Regions from separate parts of the Homo sapiens genome. Here all the other regions are linked to region 1. Evidence: fine-mapped expression QTL. A gene starts in region 1. Each other region holds a variant in brackets. All regions are shown on one strand. Distances are from middle to middle.

Region 1 (8,676 bases):
CTAAGTATCACACTGATTTAGAAAATAGCTCATTTTCAAAAACAAATTCAGTATTAGAGGATACAGATTTACAAACAATTAGAAAATAAAACAAATTCTCCAAGTCTGGGTATTTGGTAAAAAAAAAAGAAAAGAAGAAAAAGAAAGAACAGGAAGGAGGGAGGGAGGGAAGGAGAGAGGGAGGGAGGGAAGGAGAGAGGGAGGGAGGGAAGGAGAGAGGGAGGGAGGGAGGGAAGGAAGGAAGGAAGGAGAAAAGCAAACAAAACTGAAAAACATCAGTACAAATAAATGTGCAAAATCAATCCCAAAACCTCCCTCCAATCTTTCCTTCCCAGTACAGAACACTCTCAGAAGACACTGTATCAGATTTGCCTTTACCTTCTCTAGGTCTCCAGGAGCAATTTGCAGAGCAGAATTCACCTCCAGAGAAAAAATACCAGCTTCCCTCTAACAATACCCACTTCACTAATTTCAGTGCCTTAGAGAGCAAGATATCCCTAAGGGTTTTTGGTTTTCTCTTTTTCTTCTCTTCCTGTCAACTGAAGATTCTGTAGCTAGGACTCAAATATGTACTTCTGGCAGCCTGAGTTGGAAATCAACATACTAAAGTAACAATTTCAGGTGCCCTGTGAGCTGCATTAGCTTCAGCCAGATTAATTGGAGAATTTACCGTGGATTTATGTAATTTTTTTCCTACAGGAAAAAAACCTCCAAAACTTACATTATTTTGGAATTTAGTTTATAATTGCCTGTATAAAAAAATATTGAGTCAAAATAAAGAGATTCACAAAGGAAAAAAACAACATACCGCTGACTTCACTAACAATAGATATTCCAGGCCGGGCACAGTGGCTCACACCTGTAATCCCAGCACTTTGGGAGGCCAAGGTGGGTGGATCACGAGGTCAGGAGTTCGAGACCAGCCTGGCCAACATAGTGAAACCCCGTCTCTACTAAAAATACAAAAATTAGCCGGGCATGGTGGCGCGCACCTGTAGTCCAAGCTACTCGGGAGGCTGAGGCAGAGAATCGCTTGAATCCAGAAGATGGAGGCTGCAGCGAGCCAAGATTGCCCCACTGCACACCAGCCTGGCCGACAGCGTGACACTTCGTCTCAAAAAAAAAAAAAAAATAGATATTCCAGTGTCTGTCTAGCCAGCTAGGGAATAGCAATTGCTAAATTATAAACTATTTGGAATTAGTTGATTGACAGCTTAATAAAGTTTATGGCAACTAGACTCAAGAGAATACTTTTCATTAAAGAAGATAACAGTTTAAGGTCAAATAATTGTTGAAATCTTAATAATATAATACATTACAGAACATATCTCATCATGGAATCTTGTAACTGATAATTAACAAGTTTAAAATATTATTTGCCATTACTGAACAGAATAAAGAATAATTGCAGAATGTGTAGATTATTTCATTTATGTATTTATTTATTTATTTATTTTATTTTTTTGAGATGGAATCTCGCTATGTCACCCAGGCTGCACTGCAGTGGCGTGATCTTGGCTCACTGCAAGCTCCGCCTCCCCGGTTCATGCCATTCTCCTGCCTCAGCCTCCCAAGTAGCTGGGACTACAGGCGCCTGCCACCACGCCCGGCTAATTTTTGTATTTTTAGTAGAGATGGGGTTTCACCTTGTTAGCCAGGATGGTCTCAATCTCCTGACCTCGTGATCCACCCGCCTGGGCCTCCCAAACTGCTGGGATTACAGGCGTGAGCTACTGCGCCCAGCCCTGAATGTGTAGATTATTTTTTAACCAGTGTAGTAGTATGGGTATTATTAATTTAGGTACAGATATTTTAAAGGCATATTATGATTCAGAAACAGCATACTGTATTTAAATGCATTCAAATATAACACGCATAAAGTAATTTAAAAGAAAAATACTATTTTGCAATAAAAATAACCAGGCCAGGCATGGCGGCTCATGCCTGTAATGCCAACACTTTGAGAAGCCAAGGCAGTAAGATCCCTTGAGTCTGGGAGTTCGAGACCAGCCTGGGCAATATAGTGAGCCCTGGTTTCTACAAAAACCTGAAAAAAAGTTAGCAGAGAGTGGCAGTGCACACCTGTCATCCCAGCTACTTGGGAGACTGAGGTGAGAGGATGGCTTGAGCCCAGGAGGCAGAGGTTGGAGTGGGCCAAGATGGTACCACAGCACTCCAGCCTGGGTGACACAGAGAGACTCGATCTCAAAACAAACAACAACAACAAAACCCACCAATAAAAATAACCAATATAATAAGATCAGGAAGTTTAAAGTAGAGGTAATAAGATCAGAAGTTTAAAGTGGAGAAAAAAACTATCTGCATCTGTCTCTGTGTGCCAGATATTTTACCTCATTTAATATTCACAAATACCATACAAAACAGCCATTTCTATGTTTTCCCTTTTCACAGGGAACTAAAGGCAACAACATCTCTGGGCCTAGAGAAACAGTAAATGGCAGAGTCAGGGTTTGAACCTATATCTCTTTGACTCTAAAGTCTTTGCCCCTTCCCCCATCATGCTATTTAAGAAAGATCACATATACTAAACAAAAATTTGAAATCACTCCCACTTTTCACTTGCCATTTATTTATTTATTTATTTATTTCTGAGACGGAGTCTCGCTCTGTCGCCCAGGCTGGAGTGCAGCAGCCAGTCTCTTTACTTTTTAAAAGACAAGTGACAAGGCCAGGCACGGTGGCTCATGCCTATAATCCCAGCACTTTGGGAGGCTGAGGCGGGCAGATCACGAGGTCAAGAGTTCGAGATCAGCCTGGCCAACATGGTGAAACCCTGTCTCTACCAAAAATACAAAAATTAGCCAGGCGTGGTGGCGCACGCCTGTAATCCCAGCTATGCAGAGGCTGAGGCAGGAAAATCGCTTGAACCTGGGAGGCGGAGGTTGCAGTGTGCTGAGATCGCACCACCGCACTCCAGCCTGGTGACGGAGTGAGACTGTCACAAAAACAAAAACAAAAACAAAAAAACAACAAAAGAAAGAGAACCAACAAAAAAAAATTTTTTTAAGAGGATGTAAATGTTATGTATTTTTTTAGTTGGACTAGTTCCACTTTGACACCTAAAATGATTTTTTTTTTTTTTTTTTTTTTGAGACGGAGTTTCACTCTTTCGCCCAGGCTAGTGTGCAGTGGCGCGATATGGGCTCACCGCAACCTCCGCCTTCCGGTTTCAAGCGATTCTCCTGCCTCAGCCTTCGGAGTAGCTGGGATTACAGGCGCCCGCCACCACGCCAGGCTAATTTTTGTATTTTTAGTAAAGACAACGTTTCGCCATGTTAGCCAGGCTGGTCTCGAACTCCTGACCTCGTGATCCGCCAGCCTCGGCCTCCCAAAGTGCTGGGATTACAGGAGTGAGCCACAGCGCCTGGCAAAATGATCAATATTTATAAATACATCTGTCCAACACATAATGACTTGTTGAACTCATCTAACTTTCTCTGGATGCTATTTAGGGAATAAAATACAGGACAGGAGTTGATTGTTATGAACATATAAGGAGAGAAGCAAAAGCCCCATGCTAATATTGGCCATATCCTAGAAGAGGAGGAAATTATAAGTTCTAGGTCAAAAAAACTTTTGTTGGTTACAGGGTTTCAGAGTGATTTCACTAGAGGCCACCAATGGTCGCCTCTTCTGTTTCTAGATATCCTGTTTTCCTTCTTTCCCAAGCATTCCCCAGATTGTCCATGAAGCCTTTTTTTCCCACAGTGTCAATGCAGCTAACCAACCATACATCTAGCTCAAAAATTGTTAAAAGAATTGAACTGGTAACCTGTCTCAAAGCAAAAGAAAAAAAAGTAACAGCATTTTACATTTGGGAGGTGTTTTATATCCTGAGAAAATCTGGGTTCAGAGACTCTTTTTACTGTATTACAAGGGCTAACTGAGGCTGGGAGACAGGAAGTGACCGAGGGCCGAGCGTGAGTTGGCAGCAGGGCCAAAGGTTGAAGCTTGATCTCAGAACAGCACTCCCGGCTTTCCCCATCCCCGACCCGGGCCGAGCCTCAGGGCTGGCTCCGCCCTAAAGCTTGCGGGGACGGGGCTCGAGAGTGCCAGCGGCAGCCCACAGCACGCCTAAAATAACACCCCGCCCCACGGGCCTCCTTTCTAGAGTAAAGACACGTTCGGTGACAGTGCGGAGTTTAGGGAACCAGAGGGAAGGCGCGGAGAAGAAAAATAGGTCTCTCCTTCAGACAACTGTGGGCGCACACGGCCTCTAACCCAAATCCGCGCTCCTGCTGCCTTCACCTGCCACACGATCAGCGACACGCTAACCTCTGCGCGCTGGGGGACCCCCAAAGGTTGGCCTCCGGGATCCCTCTCCCAGCCCACTCTAGAGACGAATCTGGTCCCCAAAATGTAAGAAAAGAAGGGGCGCAGGAACAAAGCGACCTCAAGCGGTGGCCCCCAAGGCGGGCGGGCGCGGACTACAAGTCCCGGCACGCCGCGCGCCGGCGGCCCTCGGCCACTGCCACGCGGGCGGCGCGGTGGCCGCCGGGACTCGTAGTCTGCGGCTCGGCGACTCCGCGGGGCGCGGACTAGGGGCGGCGGGACAGGCCGGCCCGCATCCCGTCAAGCCCCAAGGAGCCCGCCTGCTGCCCGGGCCTCACCTCGACGATGCGGGCGCACTGGGTCCCCTTGCCGGCGCCGGGGCCGCCGAGGACGAACACGACCAGCGGCTTCATGAGACGTGGAGAGCAGAGGAGAATCGGCCGGCGGGTCTGCAGCAGGAAGCTAAGGCCCAGGACGTGGAGCAGCCCGCTGCGGCAGCGGCTCAGCATACACCGCGCCTCGGCCGGACGCTGAGGGAGCTGACAGCGGCCGGCGCGGCGCGGGGCGGGGCGGGGAGGCGGCGGGAGAAAGGGGCGGGCTGAGCCGGCGCCCGCCGCGGCCCCGCCGCCGTGGCTGCCCGGGCGTCCGCGGCCCTGTCGGAAGGGGAGGAGCTTCGCACGGCGGCGGCGTCTCGGCGACACTCGTGCGGTCCGCGCCAGCTTTCCTCCAACCCTTGGGTGGTTATTAGTGCTTTCTGACTGCAGATATTTTATCCTGCGCCCTCAAGTGTCTGGTGCTGAGCTGGAGGCTGGGACGTGATCCGCGGGAGAGCAAAACCTATTGTCTCTGCTCGCAATGAGTTTCCATTCCAGCCAGTGAGGTATGGGGAGGTAGCCAGTGTGAATGAGTAAACACCAGTACATACAAAAGGCAGTACGATTTTGAAGAAATAACAAGTAGGACATAAGATGGCCAGGGTCGCCAGAGAAGGCTTCAGAAGAGGTGACATTCAAGCCAAGACAAAAGGATAGAAAAGAGCGAAACCAGGCAAACACCAGGATAGAGTGTCCCACAGAGAAAAGCATGTGCAAAAAATCTAAGTTGGTTTGGCATGTTAAAGCAATTGAAGGAAGGCCTGGCTGGGCGCGGTGGCTCACGCCTGTAATCCCAGCATTTTGGGAGGCTGAGGCAGGAGGATGGCTTGAGCCCAGGAGTTCGAGACCAGCCTGGACAACATGACGAGACCCCGTCTCGACCAAAAATTTAAAAGCCGGGCACCGTGACCCGTGCCTGTGATCCCAGCTACTGGGATGTTCACTTGAGCCTAGGAGCCGTAATAGCACCACTGCACTCCTGCCTAGGTGACAATGAGACTGCTTCAAAAAAAAAAAAGGAAAAAAGGCCAGTGACAGTGAGACCAGGGCTGAGTCAAATGAGGGGAGAATGGAAGGTGAAAAGTTGAGAAAGTGAGGTCGGTGGCAGATCAGGACTTTTGATTATGGAAAGGAATTTGGGCTGTATTCTAACAGCAATGGAAGCCCTTTAACTCCGTTCGCCTGCCCCCTTCATTAGGGAAGAATCTTAAGGGAGAAGAAAAGGAGACGTTCAAGAACTGAGCCTTGGTGCATACAGGCCTTTAAAAGGCCTTCTGGCCAACGTTAAGAGCTCATTTGATATTTGAGGTAACGGATTCAAAATAATTGAAGATGTTTGGCCATTCAGGCACAGGCAGAGAAGGCAGCTTGTTGCATTTACTGAGGGTTGGGATTTTGCCTGGCAAGTACAACAGAGAGAGGGGGCCAAGTGATGAGAGTGTTTGGAAGAGAATGTTCATGATGCTGTGTGTAGAATCAAAACCATACAGGAAAGCAAATAATGGCACATGAAGCCTGGTAGTGGAGGGGTTGGAGGGTGGTGGGGAAAGGGACCAATGTCTTAGAGCATTGGCCCAAGAAAGATTGCAGTGGGGTATATGAGCAAGTGCTCTGGCAGTATGGATGCTGCTGGTCTGAGTGGGATATTTGGAATTGAAATGTCCCAGCTTCTGAGTTTCTGATGATGCCAAGGTCCAGGGTGAGACCATGGGAATGGAAGACTGAGGCAGAATGCATGTCCTGTTTTTAGAACTAAGAGTCCAGGGTGTTAGATTTGTCGTACAGGTACAAGTTCAAGTCAGATAGTGCTGGAGTGAACAAAGACTATGGGAAAGGAACTAAGCTGTTTAGGGCAGAGTGACCAGGACGTTAGTAAACGAAAGCAAACAGGAGAGGAAGATAGTGGTATAGCCCTCTGTCTGACCACCCCCATTCTCCTTTTTCTTTTGGTGGTCCTTTCTTAGCTCACTCAGCATTTTCTGGCTCTTCCCCATCTCTACTCTCTCTCCTTGCTTTCTTTTTGTTGTTGTTGTTTTTACTTATTCCCATCCTTCCTACCCTTCTTTTCCCATTTATAAGTCCCTCCCTTCTCCCTGTCTCTTTTCCTGTCCTTCTCCTCACCTACTTGCCTTTGTTTGCCCTTCTTTTCCATTCTCCCTTTAATTTCTACCTCTTTCCTCTCCACAACTTCTACCTTTTCCTTCCCACCATAGAAAGGAGAATGGGATATTTTTTATTATCACAGCTGGAAAAAAATTTTTTTGGGGGGGATAGAGTCTCACTCTGTCACCCACGCTGGAATGCAGTGGTGCCATCTTGGCTCACTGCAACCTCCACCTCCCAGGTTCAAGCGATTCTTCTGCCTCAGCCTCCCAAGTAGCTGGGATTACAGGCACCTGCCACCACCCCTGGTTAATTTTTGTATTTTTAGTAGAGAGGGGGTTTCACCATGTTGTCCAGGCTGGTCTTGAACTCCTGGGCTCAAGTGATCCTCCTGCCTTGGCCTCCCAAAGTGCTGGGATTGCAGGCATGAGCCACCGCGCCCAGCCAGGCCTACACTACACTACAGGTGGTGGTGTGCACCTGTAGTCCCAGATGCTCGGAAGGCTGAGATGGGAGGCTGAGGTGGGAGGATCCCTTGAGCCCAGGAGGTGGAGGCTGAGGTGGGAGCAGCCCTTGAGCCTAGGAGGTGCAAACTCCAGTGAGCCAAGATCGTGCTACTACATTCTAACCTGGGCAACAGAGCCAGACCCTGTCTCAAAACAAAAACAAAACATTTTTCTATGGATACTGAAATTTGAATTTATATAATTTGCATGTGTCCCAAAATATTATTTATTTTTATTTTTAAAATCCATTTTAAAATGTGAACATTATTTTGAGCTTGAAGGCTATACAAAAACAGGGACCCACGTTTAGATATGTGAATTTTCACATAAAAAAACACGGCCGGGCGCAGCGGCTCATGCATGTAATCCCAGCACTTTGCGAGGCCAAGGTGGGCAGATCACCTGAGGTTGGAAACCAGCTTGGCTAACACGGTGAAACCCCAGTTCTACTAAAAATACAAAATTAGCTGGATGTGGTGGTGCATGCCTGTAATCCCAGCTACTTGGGAGGCTGAGGCAGGAGAATTGCTTGAACCCAGGAGGTGGAGGTTGCAGTGAGCTGAGATCGCACCACTGCACTCCAGCCTGGCGACAGAGCAAGACTCTGTCTCAAAAAAAAGAAGGCTCCAAACCCTTCAGCTTCTGGGGAGGAGGAGCTAGGACATGGGCAGCCAAGAACAAGGACAATTGGTCATATTGGGAATGGGTAGCAGGAGTATGAAAAAGGCCATATCAAAACAAATGTGTCTTCTTTTCCTTTGTTCACACAATTAGAGTTAAAAGATCTTAAGGATATGGTGTCTGTGAGAAAAAGGGCTAGGAAGCTATTGGCATACTTTTAGTGAAGGCCTTGGGCTAGAGACAAAAAGACAGTCTTTGTTGTTTCCATGATAGAACACCAGAACTAAGGATTCCACACAGGGGTTTGGGTCTGAAACTTCCTAGTAAACCTACTTAAAGCAATATGTGGTGATTTTTTTTTCACAGAGAAAAAAACTTTCTGGATAATTATGACCACAGTTGGTTGAGTACTTAATGTCCTGTTCCTTGCCTGTCTCCTTCTGCCAGTTATGTTAGGCAACTAAGGAAAATATTAATGTGGAAAGATTTCTAAAAACTGAAACCCAGACACCCATCTCTGCGAAGGGTTTTCCAGGGAGTCATTTCCAGGAATGACAAGGTGAGGCAAAAAAACACTTTATGACTAGTTGGCCCTTTGAGTCTGTTCCAGTTATCTATTGCTACAAAACAGCCATTCCCAAATCAATGACTTAAAACAAGAAACATTCTTTTTTTTTGAGACAGAGTTTCACTCTTGTTGCCCAGGCTGGAGTGCAATGGCACAATCTCAGCTCACCACAACCTCTGCCTCCCGGGTTCAAGCGATTCTCCTGCCTCGG
Region 2 (5,000 bases), 63 kb after region 1:
GATTAATGTTTTAAAAACACTGAGTGATCAATTTTAGGACCTGAGTGTGTGTAATGTCTTTTACTGTACATTTCCTATGTGATTTCTCTACACTTCACTTTTCTCACCTATAAAATGGGAGAAATGATCAGTATTATATGTAGATTTAAAGATTAAATGAGTGTGTGTGTGTGTGTAAAGTGCTTACTTAGTATGGGACCTGGCTAGAGGAAGTACGCAACAAATTACAACTGTTTTATTTATCTCTTTTAACAACCTTAGTTTTAGGTGATATTGAAGCTCATAGTGGTTAAGTAACTTTTCCAAAAGGTAGCAGGGTAGGATTTAAACTTATAGCCACATGATACCAAAGCTGTACTCCAAACCACTATAAATACACATGCCATTTTATACTATTAGCGCAGTTTATATTTCTACTGACCTTAATAATTGATTGATGATACTTATTTTCCTATATTAATAAGGTTAATCCACTAAAATTATATTGAGCACAGTAGTACCATTTGTAGAGAAGCAGAAAATCATAGTGTTTACAAAGGGAGGCTCTTCCACTCCTAGTTACATACCCAAGAGAAGTGAAAAAAATATGTCCACACAAAAAGCTGTATGTAAATGTCCAAGTAGCATTATTCCTAATAGCCCAAAGTGAAAACAACCTAAATGTCTGTCAGCTGATGAGTGGAAAAGCACAATGTGATATATCCATACAAGGGAATGTTATTCAGCAATCAGAAGCAATAAAGTATTAGTAAATGCTGCAACATGGTTGAACCTTCAAAACATTATGCCAAGTGAAAGAAGCCAGATACAAGGCCACAGTATGGTACTGTTTATATGAAATGTCCAGAATAGGCAAATTCAGAGATAGAAATCATGTTAGACCGTCAGGGGCTCCGGAGAAGGGCAATAGGGTGTGGCTGCTAATGGGTACAGAGTTTTGGGGGTTTGATGAAAATGTTCTGGAATCAGATAGTGGTGATTATTGCACACTTTGTGAGTATACCAAAAACCACTGAATTGTACACTTTAAAGCAGCTAATTTCATGGTACATGAATTATATCTCAATTTAAAATGGAAGAGGGGAGGCTTTTGGTGTTTGAACCTCAGCTTTCAGATTTGCTACTTGTTAGTTATATGTCCTATACAAGTAACTTAACTTTTTCCTTGCCGCAGGTTTTCTTACTTGTAAAAAAAATGTTTAATTGTAATATAGTCTTCAGAGGATTGCTGTAAAAATTATACATAAAAGCCTATAGTAATAGGGTCTTGCAAACAACAGGCGCTCAGTAACTGTTAGCCATTGTTATTAATATATCCAATTTCAACATGGGCAAACATGGGCAATTCTGATTTACCTTTATAATAATCTTGTGTGATATGTTCAGTATTTGGTATATGGAGTCAGAGAGTCAGAGTATACCTCCAATCTAACTTTTGATTTATAAGTGAAATAGGAATATAATGTTAGTTTGAAGTATTAACCATTCACACTTTTTTACATGAGTATCAACTTACGAATACTAAGCTAAACACCTTTATGTATTGCTTTTAAATGTATACTTAAAGGCTGAGGTGGGCAGATTGCTTGAGCCCAGGAGTTTGAGAACAGCCTGGGCAACATGGCAAAACCCCATCTCTACAAAACATGTGAAAATTAACCAGGCATGGTGGTGCATGGCTGTCATCCCAGCCACCCCAGGAGGCTGAGGTGGGAGGATCGATTGAGCCCAGGAGGTTGAGGCTGCAATAAGCCATGATTGCACCACGGCTGGGTGACAGCCTGGGTGACAGAGCAAGACCTTGTCTCAAAAAAAAAAAAAAATAGTATACTTAAAGTGCTTCTTAATAACTAGTGATAATGGCTTTCTATATTGAATAAGTTTCATGGTATGGTCTAGTTGAAATTTGAGAAAATAGACTTAAAAGTCAGTTTCTTATAATTAGGGCGCTTTGTAATTCATTATTAAACTGCTGCCAGTTTTGTTGATTACTTCCCTGTCAGTTTAAAGTATGTTTTTAATTGATACAGATTCAGCGTTTGTTGGAAGCACAGTCTCTGATGCCCTGTTCCCCTAAGACAACTGCTGTTGAAGACACAGTGCAAGCTGGAAGACAAATGGAGTTGGTTTCTGTGGAAGCACAGTCTTCCCCTGGCTTGCACATGAGAAAAGGTGTAAGCATTGCTGTGAGCACAGGTAATTTCAGTTTTTTTTTAATTTGTAAGGAAATTGTTAAAAATGCTTTTCATATCTGGTTTTTGAATTTTATGTTCAAATTGGTGCATGGTGCAGTAGGACCAAAACCAAGGTGATGAGAGTATGACTTAAGTTTTTGTGTGATTTTAGTCTTTGTGAAATAAAACTACACCTGCAAACTGCATAACATGATAAAGTGTTTGATTTTGCTACTTTTCTAGGCTGGACCCAATTCTGGTTTTTTTTTTGTTTTTTGTTTTTT[T/G]TTTTGAAATGGAGTCTCGCTGTGTTGCCCAAGCTAGAGTGCAGTGTGGTGCACTCTCAGCTCACTGCAACCTCCACCATCCTAGGTTCAAGCAATCCTCCTGTCTCAGCCTCCCAAAGTGTTGGGATTACAGGCGTGAGCCACCGCGTCCAGCCAGTCTTGTTTGTATTAATTTATTTTCATAAAATCACCCAAGTATATCCTCAGAGTAGAAACCATTTTGACTATGATTTACTTTTTTTTTTTTTTTTTTTTGAGACGGAGTCTCACTCCGTCACACAGGCTGGAGTGCAATGGCATAGTCTCGGCTCACTGCAACCTCCGCCTCCTGGGTTCAAGTGATTTTCCTGAGTAGCTGGGACTACAAGCGCCTGCCACCACACCTGGCTAATTTTTGTATTTTTAGTAGAGATGGGGTTTCACTATGTTGGTCAGGCTGGTCTCCAACTCCTGACCGCATGATCCACCCACCTCAGCCTCCCAAAGGGCTGGGATTGTATTACAGGCATGAGCCACTGTGCCCAGGCTACTTTTTGGTTTTAACCATCTGTTTAAACCATTATGTATTAGCAATATTCCCCAAATTATAGAATGCCTATGGCTCGTGGTACAAAAGATGATTTAGGGTGTTATACAGATTAATATTTATATTTTGTAAATATATCTTTTCCAATACTCATAGGTATAAATACAATAAGCATATCAAATCTGTGATTTTAGAGAAATAATGAGGCTCAGTAAAAAAAGAGTTAATTTAAAGAAAGAGTAAGTAAACAATATTACATGCAAATAGCTCTGAAGATAGGTGTAAGTGCTTCATAAAGATTGAGAAATTGGCTGGGCGCAGTGGCTCATGCCTATAATGTTTGCACTTTGGGAGGTCAAGGCAGGTGGATTGCCTGATGCTAGGAGTTCGAGACCAGCCTGGTCAAAATGATGAAGCCCCATCTTTAAAAAAAATACAAAAATTAGCCACATATGGTGGCGCACACCTGCAGTCCCAGCTACTCGGGAAGCTGAGGTGGGAGGATCACCTGAGCCCAGGGACGTTGAGGCTGCAGTGAGCTGTGATTGTGTCACTGCACTCCAGCCTGAGCAACAAAGTGACACCCTGTCTTAAAAAAAAAAAAAAAAAAAAAAAAAGATTGGGAAACACTTGATTTTTTTTAATACCTGCCTGATATTACAGATATTACAGATGTCTGATGCATCACCAATGTAGTCTTTTAAATATTGCATTTAAGTGTCAAAACCAGAGAACCTAGGGATTTGTATTTTATATATTATCTCATATTATTCAGAGCAGCAGTTTTCAACATACACACCCCATCCCACGGATCATATTCAGAATCTTAATATGTAAAGCAAATCATTTCAGAGCCACCCTTCTTGAAAAAGCAGAACCCAGAATGTGCCCTTCCACCCGACCCGTCCCCTAGTGTTTTGTCTTTCTGTCTTCCACCTACCTCTTCCTGGCATTTCTGAGGAAATATAATCTAAAAACTTAGTTCTAAGTAATTGTGTGTGTGTGTGTGTGTGTGTGTGTGTGTGTGTGTGTATATATATATATATTTTTTTTTTTTTTTGAGCCAGAGTTGCCCAGGCTGGAATGCAGTAGCACAATCACAGCTCATTGCAGCATCGACCTCCTGGGCTCAAGTGATCTTACACCTCTGCCTCCTGAGTAGATGGGACTACAGGCACACCACCACACCTGGCTAATTTTTTTGTATTTTTTTTGTAGAGACAGGATTTCTCCATGTTGCCCAGGCTGGTCTCGAACTCCTGAGCTCAAGTGATCCTCCCGCCTCTGCCTCTCAAAGTGTTGGGATTATAGGCGTGAGCCATTGCACCCAGCCAATATGGCTATTCTTAACAAAGGTTTGGCAGAGTATTATTTTTAAAGTTGAATGTTTGTTTCAGTATCTTAAATTATTTAACCTCCAGGTGCTAGCTTGTTTTGGAATGCAGCAGGTGAGGATCAAGAGCCTGACTCTCAAATGAAGCAAGATGATACCAAAATTTCCAGTGAGGACATGAATTTTTCTGTCGATATTAATAATGAAGTCACAAGTCTTCCAGGTAGTGCATCTTCATTAAAAGCAGTTGATATTCCCAGTTTTGAAGAGAGCAACATTGCTGTGGAAGAAGAATTTAACCAGCCACTTTCTGTATCCAAGTAAGGTCTCTTTGATTTAGTCTTTCATCCTACTTTCAAAAAAAATTTTTTTTGATAGACAAATAATAATTGTATATATTTGTGGGGCACAATGTTTAGATGCATGTTTACAGTATGGAATGATTAAATCAGACCAACAAATCTATCACTTCACATACTTAACTTTTTCTGTGGTAAAAACATTTGAAGTCTACTATTAGCAATTTTGAAATATACAATGTATTATTATTCATTACAGTTGCTGTTCTGTTCAGGTTTTTTTTTGTTTTTAATTCTAATTTCTTTAAAGTCTTCTAACTCAGAAATGATATATTTTCTAACTGGTATTTTCTTTTATGTCTTTACTTGATATGATTTCTATGT
Region 3 (8,676 bases), 91 kb before region 1:
GACTCCCTATAGAACTCTAGGGAGTTCATCAGTAAATCATCAATGGAATTCTGTATTCACTGGGAACAGAGGTTGTAGCTCAGATCATCAATAGAACTACGTGTTCACTAAGAACAGAGGTTGCTTCTCTCCCATCAGTCCCCATCTTTGAGGGGAGGAGAACATGTCTCCCTCTCAGACAGAGTTTATCCGTGGTTTCTGGCTGTAGCAGTCATTGGATTTGTCTGTTGTTCTCTCTGCCTCAGTTTCCTCCTTTTAAAATGGTTGTGACAAATCAAACCAGCTTCCAGACTGAGCCCTGCCAAAGTCTTCCAGGGGCTCCACATTGCTTGTAAGACAAAATGCAGTTTCCCTGGCATGATGAGCTGAACATGCTTACAGTTTTTGCATGTCTCGGCCCTCTGTTGAAGGAAACCTTCCCTCCTGTGTTCCATGTGGTCCTGACGGGGCTATCCAATTTGTTCCCCTCACAATTACTCCCCAGGAGCAGACAGGCAACCAACTGGGTCATACATACCATTGCAAGTTCAAGGCCCAGTGATTGGTCCAGGCAGTGGTAAGTGACCTAAGTAGCCAGTCACCCCTTCTACATGATTTGACATATGGACTCTGAGATTTGGGACTATGTAGACCATGGGACTGGCACTCTGGGACTCTGGGAGGAGCACCTCTCCTTTTGGATCAGAAGACAAGCACACAGGCTTAGCTGTCAGAAGCCATCTCCCTGCCACATGGAGAGTGCTGTTTGACATCAAAGCCCACACACAGAGGAAAACAGCCTAAAGAGAGAAAGAGACTTAAAAATAGTGTTTGAGTCCCTGGATCCAGCTCTGCCTGAAACTGGAACCCCTAGACTTTCCAGACATTCAAAAAGAAAGAAATCTCCCCTTTTGCTAAGCTAGGTTGAGGTGGATTTCTGCTAGTTGAGTTGAATTTCACAAATAGCCTAGCCACAAAAGAGAAGAATCCTGGGTCTCTGAGACCACTGAACTGCCATACCACCCTGAACTGCCTGCACTGACTGTTATGTAAAAGAGAAATAAACTTTGGTCTTGTTTAGACCACTGATGTGGGATTGGGGGGGCCAGTCTGTCATTCACAACTGAACCTAACCCTGCTTAATGCACGAAAGTTTGAGAAAATGTCCTATAAACACGAAAGAAAGGTCTGAGGTAATTAGCCTGGAGAATAAAGGCTTAACACAGCCAGCATCTCCCAATCTCCACAGGGCTCATCTGGGGCAGAGACACCAAGGCAAAAGAGAGCCAGAAAGGGGTAAAAAGCCTCACTTTCTGTGTCTCCATGCAAGGAGAACATTCTAACAGGGCTGTCTCTGAGATGTAGTAGATTACCTCGGTGGCTCTGAGTTCCTTGTCACTGGAAGTGCTAGAGTGGAGGCTGGGTAATCACTGAGTATGAATCATAGAGGCACCCAGGTGTAGCAAGAAGAGTTCAGGTCTTAGAGCTGGGTTCAAATTACGCTCTTACCACTTATTAGTCTCAGACAAATAATCTCTGTAAGCCTGCATTTCCTCATTTGTAAAGCATCCAGATAGCTGGGTTGGAAACGGACTAGGGAAATTTCTTATCCTGCTACCTCATGGGGACTCCTGAGACCTAGTGCTCTAGCTGGAGCCCGTCATGGATCAGGATGTCTCAGTGAGGTGCCTTGCCCTCCTCTCCAACCTTGACATGTTCAGGGACACCTCCATCCTGCCATGAAAATGCATTACCCACTGGTTTGTTCCTGCAACTGCAGAGGAACAGTGGGGCCTGAGCCAAGAGGCCTGGGCCCTACTCTCTGTCTTCTCCCTGACTTCCTATGTGACCTCAAGCATGCCCCCGCCTCTTCCAAGGCCTCAGTTTCCTCATCCAACATATGAGAAGTGTATCTCCATCACAGACAATCTGGGTCTAGAATCAGGGCTCTTAACTACTGTGCCATACCTATCACAACAATAATCATCATGTTACTGCCTGGCCTTGCCCTGCCCAGCCCCCTCAAGGTCTGCTGGAACAGGCTACTCCTCATCCTCTGCCTAGGTCAGCCCAAAATGGTGACAACTGCTACATGAGCTGACATCACAGGCCTGGGCAACCCAGAGGTTCCCAGTCTGCCAAGGGCCTCATTTCCAGCCTTGAAATTTGACTCCCCATTAGTTACATGAACACCTCTCACAGGGGCTCTGTGTGATCTTTCCTCATCCACACCTTCCTTCAAAGTTGGGGCCACTCATATCTGGGGGACTAGAGGCAATGAAATGGGAAATCTGAAACAGTAGTGGAGCAGATCTTACAGCATTATCCTATGGTCAGAAGAAAGGAGTCACAACTGGGGACCCAGATGGGGAGACAGCACCATTTGGCAGGAAGCCTGGAGGCCTGAATGGTGGAGGTCCAAAAAGCTGGTTCCCTATACCTGCCATGGATGCCCAGGATTTGGGGGCTAAAAAGGAAAAGGAGCCACCACCCTGAATGGATTGACAGCCACGGCACAGCACACCCCAGGGTGGGCATGGCAAGTACCCATGCTTCCCAAATCCAGAGGCCAGGATACCTTGTGAAGGGACTGGTGGCAGACTGATGGAAAGGCCCTGGAGAAGAAGGCAGTCGGGTTTGAGAAGGTGAAAATCTGACTGTGGTCATCAAGGGTCCCTTTGAGAAATAAAAGAGGACTGCTGTTGAAAGGAGCCAGTGTGACCACACAGGGGACGTAGTGCCTTGACAAAGGCTGCATGGAAATCCACTTCCAGGGATTTCTCCTGCTGGTATACCTGCACACATATGGTATGACATATGTACAAAGTCACATTGTGGTGCTGTTCGGAATGTCAAAAGGTTGGAAACAACATAAATGTCTATCAAGGACAGGTTAAGCAAATAATGAAACATCTGAAAAAGGGACCAGTATACTGTAAAAGTAGAATATAGAAGTTCTTTATGTACTCAGCTGGAGAAAGCACCAAGATACGTTGTTTGTTTGTTGTTTGTTTTTGTTTTTGAGACGGAGTCTCGCTCTGTCTCCCAGGATGGAGTGCAGTGATGTGATCTTGGCTCACTACAACCTCCACCTCCCGGGTTCAAGCGATTCTTCTGCCTCAGCCTCCCGAGTAATGGGATTACAGGCAAGTGCCACCACACCTGGCTAATTTTGTATTTTTTGCAGAGACAGGGTTTCACCATGTTGGCCAGTCTGGTTTCGAACTCCTGACCTCAAGTGATCCACCCACCTTGGCCTCCCAAAGTGCTGGGATTGCATGCATGAGCCACTGCACCCAGCCAAGATACATTGTTGAGTGAAAAAAAAATTTCAAGATATATAGAACAGTGTAAACATGCATCCAATTGTGTTTTTCAAGGAGAAAATAATGTATACTTGTATTGGTTTACGTATGAAACAAAAATATCTAGAAGGATGAATAAAAATCTAGTAACTGATTATACACTAGGGCAAATTGGAAACAAATGGGAGACTTCATGGATGACTTTTTTATATTTGTAAAGTGAAGTGAATGTATTACTTATTCAACAATTAAAAACTTTAAAAGAAACAGTTGGATTATTTCAATAACTAAGACTGAGTGTGCAGAACATAAGAATAAAAACCATTACTATGAGCTGAACACTTTTTATGGGCTCCAACTTGAAAATATGGTTGGTGGCTATGAATGTTGAAAGCAAGGGACGTGAAGCCAGACATGTGAGGTGCCTGTG[A/G]GTATCATCTGCCTGCCCATCAGACAGGGAAGCAGTTGAGTCTGCTAGCTAGGACCCCAGATTTTCTGCCTTTCCTCCTTCCTGTTCTGTTCCCATCCCTCTGTCTTTGGCTCCCTCCCTCTGTTCGTCCCATCTAAATTACTTTGAAAGTCTGCCAGCTGGACAGGGGTTAGGATGGATAGAGGAAGAAGGGATTTCACAGGAACAGGAGCAGCAGGCCCTCCCCTCCCTCCTTTCAGAACTCCAACCCACCACCTTCAGGAAGCATTCCTTTGTGAAGCTCACAAAACCCCAGCCCCTTCATAACTCAAGGGAGACAGACTGATGCCCAGGGTGGGACCTGTGTCTCCCTCAAGCAGGGTCCAGGCCTCTTGTCTCTAAGTCTCATCAACTCCCTAAACCCCAAGTCCAGCCTCCAGATAAGGGCAGTTCAAACCAAAGCTGCAGTATGCCCAGCTCTGGCCAGGCTGCCCAGTGAGGGACATAGTGGAACAGAGAAGACACAGGCGCTGTCTGGGAAGCCCCAGTCAGGCAGGGTAGAAAATCCTCACCCATCATCACAATGCTTTAGCAGTCACAAAGGCCATCCCTACCCAGACAGAGAGGATCGGGCACATTCTCTATTTCGAGGTAGACTGAGGCTGAGTCAGGATAGAGGCTGGAATTGGTGAGTGACCAAGGAGACCTAGCAACCCCTCATCTCATAAAGCATTCTACATACTATATTGTCATCTGCCAATATTTGAGCTCTCTGAGCGGGGACAGTGTCTGATACATCTCTGAGTCCTCAGCTGGGAAAGAGCACAGGACCTGGCACAATCAAGGGACTTGGGGAGAGGCAGTAATTGCTATGAAGTGCAGAGAAAGTAAAGGACTTGCCTAAGTGTTTGACCTGAGACTAGACCCCAGGTTTTCTGCCTCCAGCCCAGCCCCCTTTCCTCTGTCTCCCTCTTACAGAGTAGATAAATTGTCTGCACCTAGGGCCACCAACCTCACACCCATTCCAATTCCATTTGCAGTGGAGCAACTACCAAAGCCTGTCAAGAGGAAGTGGGGAGGGTGAAAGATCTGGGAGGGTTTTCTAGAGGAGGTGGGAACTGCAGCTAGTTTTCCTCTTCTGCACCAAACAATTGGTTTCCCTGCTGGAGCAAGTGCCTTTCAGCCACCAGGGGCTCCTGCCAGCCCAAAATAGCATCCAAATGGATCCTGACTTCATTCCAGTGATTTCCTGCTCAAATCAGGTGCACACGAGGTGGCCAATAGGTGGCGCTTTTATCTCCAAAAATTGATGGGAGAAAGGAGATTAGAAAGAGGGAAAGGGGAGAGAGGAGTATTCGGGTGTGAAAAGGGTGTGGGGAGTGGAAGACAGACAAAAAAAGAGGAAACCAAAGACCTGTCATCACGGCTGGAAAGGCTCTTTTCAAGATCGGGACAGTGGGTGCGGGTGTAGGGGAGGAGGATATTAGGGTGAACTGAATAATTTTATTGGTGCCTGGGGCTTTTCATCCAAGTTTCCACCTCCACTTGTTTCTTCCTGAGAGAAAGGAGAATGACTTTGAAGCCAGGCAGACCTGGAAGCAAGTCCTGGGTCAGTCACTTTGCAGCTTGACCTGGGTAAGTCACTTAACCTTTCTGAGCCTGATTTTCATCATCTATAAAGGTGATGATGCACAGTTCCTACAATGGGGAGCAAATAATTCTAAGAATGCCATCTTTGCATTCCAGGAATAAACTGCACGATTGCATATTTTTTTTGTAATACATTACTAAGTTTAATTTGCTGATATATTGCTGACAAGTTTTGCATCATCTTTCATATGTGAGATTAGGCTATATTTTGTGTATTCCTTTATCAGGTTTTGATAACATAATTAGATAACATAGTCCGTAGAATTGGGATGACTTCCATTTTTTCTGTGTTCTGGAGCAATTTATGTAACTAGAGAAATAGGTTCCTCAATGGTTTGACAGAATTCACAGGAAAAAAACAGCTAACCTAGGTGCCCTCTGGTGGGAGCAGTGGAGGAACCATCTCTGACAATGTTGTCTGTTCCTTCTGGGCTAATAGGTATATTGAAATTAGTTACTCTTTAAATTAGGCAAGCCAGATCAGCGGTGACTACCAGCAAAATGACCACTCCAAGCTTTCAGGGTTGGCCTGAGGCTATGATTAAATGGGAAAGCGTTTGGCCTTGGTAGATTAGGATGGTAGATTAGGATGATGTTAGCCAATGGCTGATTCTTTCTATATAGCTTTGCATATCTACTTTTTTCCACTTGCACCTCCACCTCTACCAAACCACCACCCTTTCCTGCCTGGATGCTGCAGTAGCCTTGTAACTGGTCTCCCTACCCCACCCCAGGGCCCCTCTAACTCTGTGTCCGTGACATATTTAGGGCTATGAAATTTCCTCTGAGCACAAGTTTGACTACATTCTTTAGATTTTAATATGTACTGTTCTTACCTTTATTAATTTATAAATAGTCTGTAATGACAACTTTCTTCTAACCAAAGAGTTATTTATTTAGATAAATGTTTTAAAATGTTTAATTGCTTAGTTTGAAGTATGGTCCAAGAATATATACTTTTTTTTTTTTTTTGAGACAGAATTTTATTCTTGCTGCCCAGACTGGAGTGCAATGGTGCAATCTTGGCTCACCGCAACCTCCGCCTCCTGGGTTCAAGCGATTCTCCTGCCTCAAGCTCCCGAGTAGCTGGGATTACAGGCATGCACCACTATGCCCGGCTAATTCGTATTTTTAGTTGAGATGGGGTTTCTCCATGTTGGTTAGGCTGGTCTTGAACTCCTGACCTCAGGTGATCCGCCCGCCTCGGCCAAAGTGCTGGGATTACAGGTGTGAGCCACCGCACCTGGCCCAAGAATATATTCTTATTCATGTGGGAATTTATAAAACTTTTTGAATGTTGGTTTTTTTCGCTATAATAAGCACATTCATATAAGCATATTCTGGATCACTTAGATGACTTCCTTGTAAGAGATACCTAATACTTGAAGTCTTTATTTCCATTTATTATCAGGTAATGCTACTTTAATCTTGAGATGAGGCAAAAAAACAATGTAGATTTTATACATATATGCTGTATTTGGGCCCATTGGTATCATGGCCTGCTACATGAAGGAATGCCTGCAGTTCATTCAAAAGGAAAAAATGGTGTTAGCCAGGCATGGTGGTGCAAGCCTGTAGTCTCAGCTACTCGAGAGGCTGAGGCGGGAGGATCGATTGAACCCAGGAGGTCAAGGCTGCAGTGTGGTATGACTGCACCACTGCACTCCACCCTGGGTGACAGAGTGAGACCCTGTGTTAATCAATCAATCAATAAAATTAAAAATGGTGACTTTAGTCATCACATGGCCCGAGGAATGACAAACCCAGAAAACCTGCTATGGAGAAGTCAGAGCCACATTCACGGAGCAAGTGATGTAGTCTCAGCAAAACTATATATATATATATATATAGTTTTTGTTTAGTTTTGTTTTGTTTTGTAGATGGAGTCTCACTCTGTCGCCAGGCTGGAGGGCAGTGGCATGATCTAGGCTCACTGCAACCTTCGCCTCCTGGGTTCAAGCGATTCCTCCGCCTCAGCCTCCCGAGTAGCTAGGACTACAGGCAGGTGCCACCACGCCTGGCTAATTTTTTGTATTTTTAGTAGAGATGGGGTTTCACCATGTTAGCCAGGATGGTCTCGATCTCCTGACCTCATGATGCGCCCACCTCAGCCTCCCAAAGTGCTGGGGATTACAGGCGTCAGCTACCGCGCCCAGCCACAATATATTCTTTTACATTTGACTAATGTTATGCACTTGAATTTTTATTTCATTGTTTGAATTTAATTTATAAACAATTTTAACAATCACATAAGAAATACAAGTCTAAAGAATTTATACCTGCAAATACTGACATTATAATAAAAAAATTAAAGTCAGTACTGGAAGTCCACAGAATTCTTTCCCTTTAAAAGTAAACCACAATAACCTGTATCGTGCAAAATCCCCTCACCCCCATACTTCTAGGATCTCCCAGAGAGGTAATACACTTGGGCTCAAAACCAATCCAGTCACTACAGTGGAGGGCTCTCTTGAAGGAGCCTCTCTGTTACCATGTTTGCCAGTGTCACTGCCAAGGGTGTCACTTTCCTATGTACTCAATTTTCCATGTGCCAGGGTAATGTTGGCTTCCTTCTTAAATGGATCCAGGAGGCCCTCAAACCAGCTCAGCACCATCCTGGGCCCAAAGCTACCCTCCCTGTGTTCCAATTCCCTCTAAGTCAGGAAGTCACCCCTCTCAGGGCTTCTCCTCTCAGGTTTCCTTCTCCTGTAAGGAAATCTCCAGAGTTCTCCTGCCCTGTCCTCCTGCCAAAACTCTTAACCCCTCATTTCCATAATACTCCACCACCTTCCCTGCTTCCCTACAGGTAAAGCATACTAAGCTGAGAAAATATCTCCCATTCTCTGATTCCCTCCAAAAAAAAAGGTCTACAGAGAAGCATAGCATTGACGCAAATATTTCATTGTCAAATGCCTGCTTAGCTTCTCATGCTAAAACAATTTCAGATGTGCAAAGTTTCCAAAAAATTTTACCTCGACTGAAAAAAGGGAATAAACTAAGAAAAAAGGGAAGATAGGGATATCAGGAAGTAGAAGATCCAAAACAGGACACAGAATTACCAAGGTAATGGTGAAGGGAATTTCCAGATCCAGCTCTGTTCAGCCGACCTGGAGCACCATCAGTCCAGATGAGCAGAAGGTTGGAGGGTTCTGGGAGAGATGCCCCAGGAAGGGAAAAGCACAACCACCAAAAGCAATTATAGGTTTCCTGGTAAGTTTGACCTCATCTCATGAAAAGCTGTACCACAGTGTTACTGGAAGGTATGGGAAGATTTAGCTTCCCATAGATTTAGCTTTGTACCTTTGTAGGTGCAAAGGAAGTTGAACAAATGAA

Direction of the effects. Alleles are on the strand shown, and positions count from the first base shown. SD is a standard deviation of normalised expression in the study named. Not every link is listed here.
As copies of G replace A in region 3, the expression in monocytes after R848 of the gene that starts at base 4,958 in region 1 goes down (moderate effect, 0.59 SD a copy in Quach 2016).

The links. PIP is the estimated chance that this variant, and not a neighbour inherited with it, causes the effect.
Region 2: its variant is the best candidate, but not a certain one, in a credible set for the expression of CMPK1 in whole blood (TOPMed, PIP 0.76).
Region 3: its variant is the best candidate, but not a certain one, in a credible set for the expression of CMPK1 in monocytes after R848 (Quach 2016, PIP 0.52).

Annotation. Positions count from the first base shown.
Region 1 is chr1:47,330,072-47,338,747 of GRCh38, reverse strand. CMPK1 (cytidine/uridine monophosphate kinase 1) reads right to left here and starts at 4,958. Exons shown (of 6, transcript NM_016308.3): 1 at 4,632-4,958. The coding sequence starts at 4,802. RefSeq lists enhancers at 3,836-3,895, 3,412-4,215, 4,216-5,019 and a silencer at 4,406-5,045.
Region 2 is chr1:47,269,272-47,274,271 of GRCh38, reverse strand. STIL (STIL centriolar assembly protein) reads left to right here. Exons shown (of 17, transcript NM_001048166.1): 13 at 2,031-2,196; 14 at 4,406-4,637. Among named protein-coding and RNA genes, the nearest start is that of TAL1, 40 kb to the right of the region's middle. The variant T/G (reference allele first, on the strand shown) is at 2,459.
Region 3 is chr1:47,420,854-47,429,529 of GRCh38, reverse strand. All of the region lies in intron 1 of LINC01389 (long intergenic non-protein coding RNA 1389), which reads left to right. Among named protein-coding and RNA genes, the nearest start is that of FOXE3, 8.9 kb to the right of the region's middle. The variant A/G (reference allele first, on the strand shown) is at 3,715.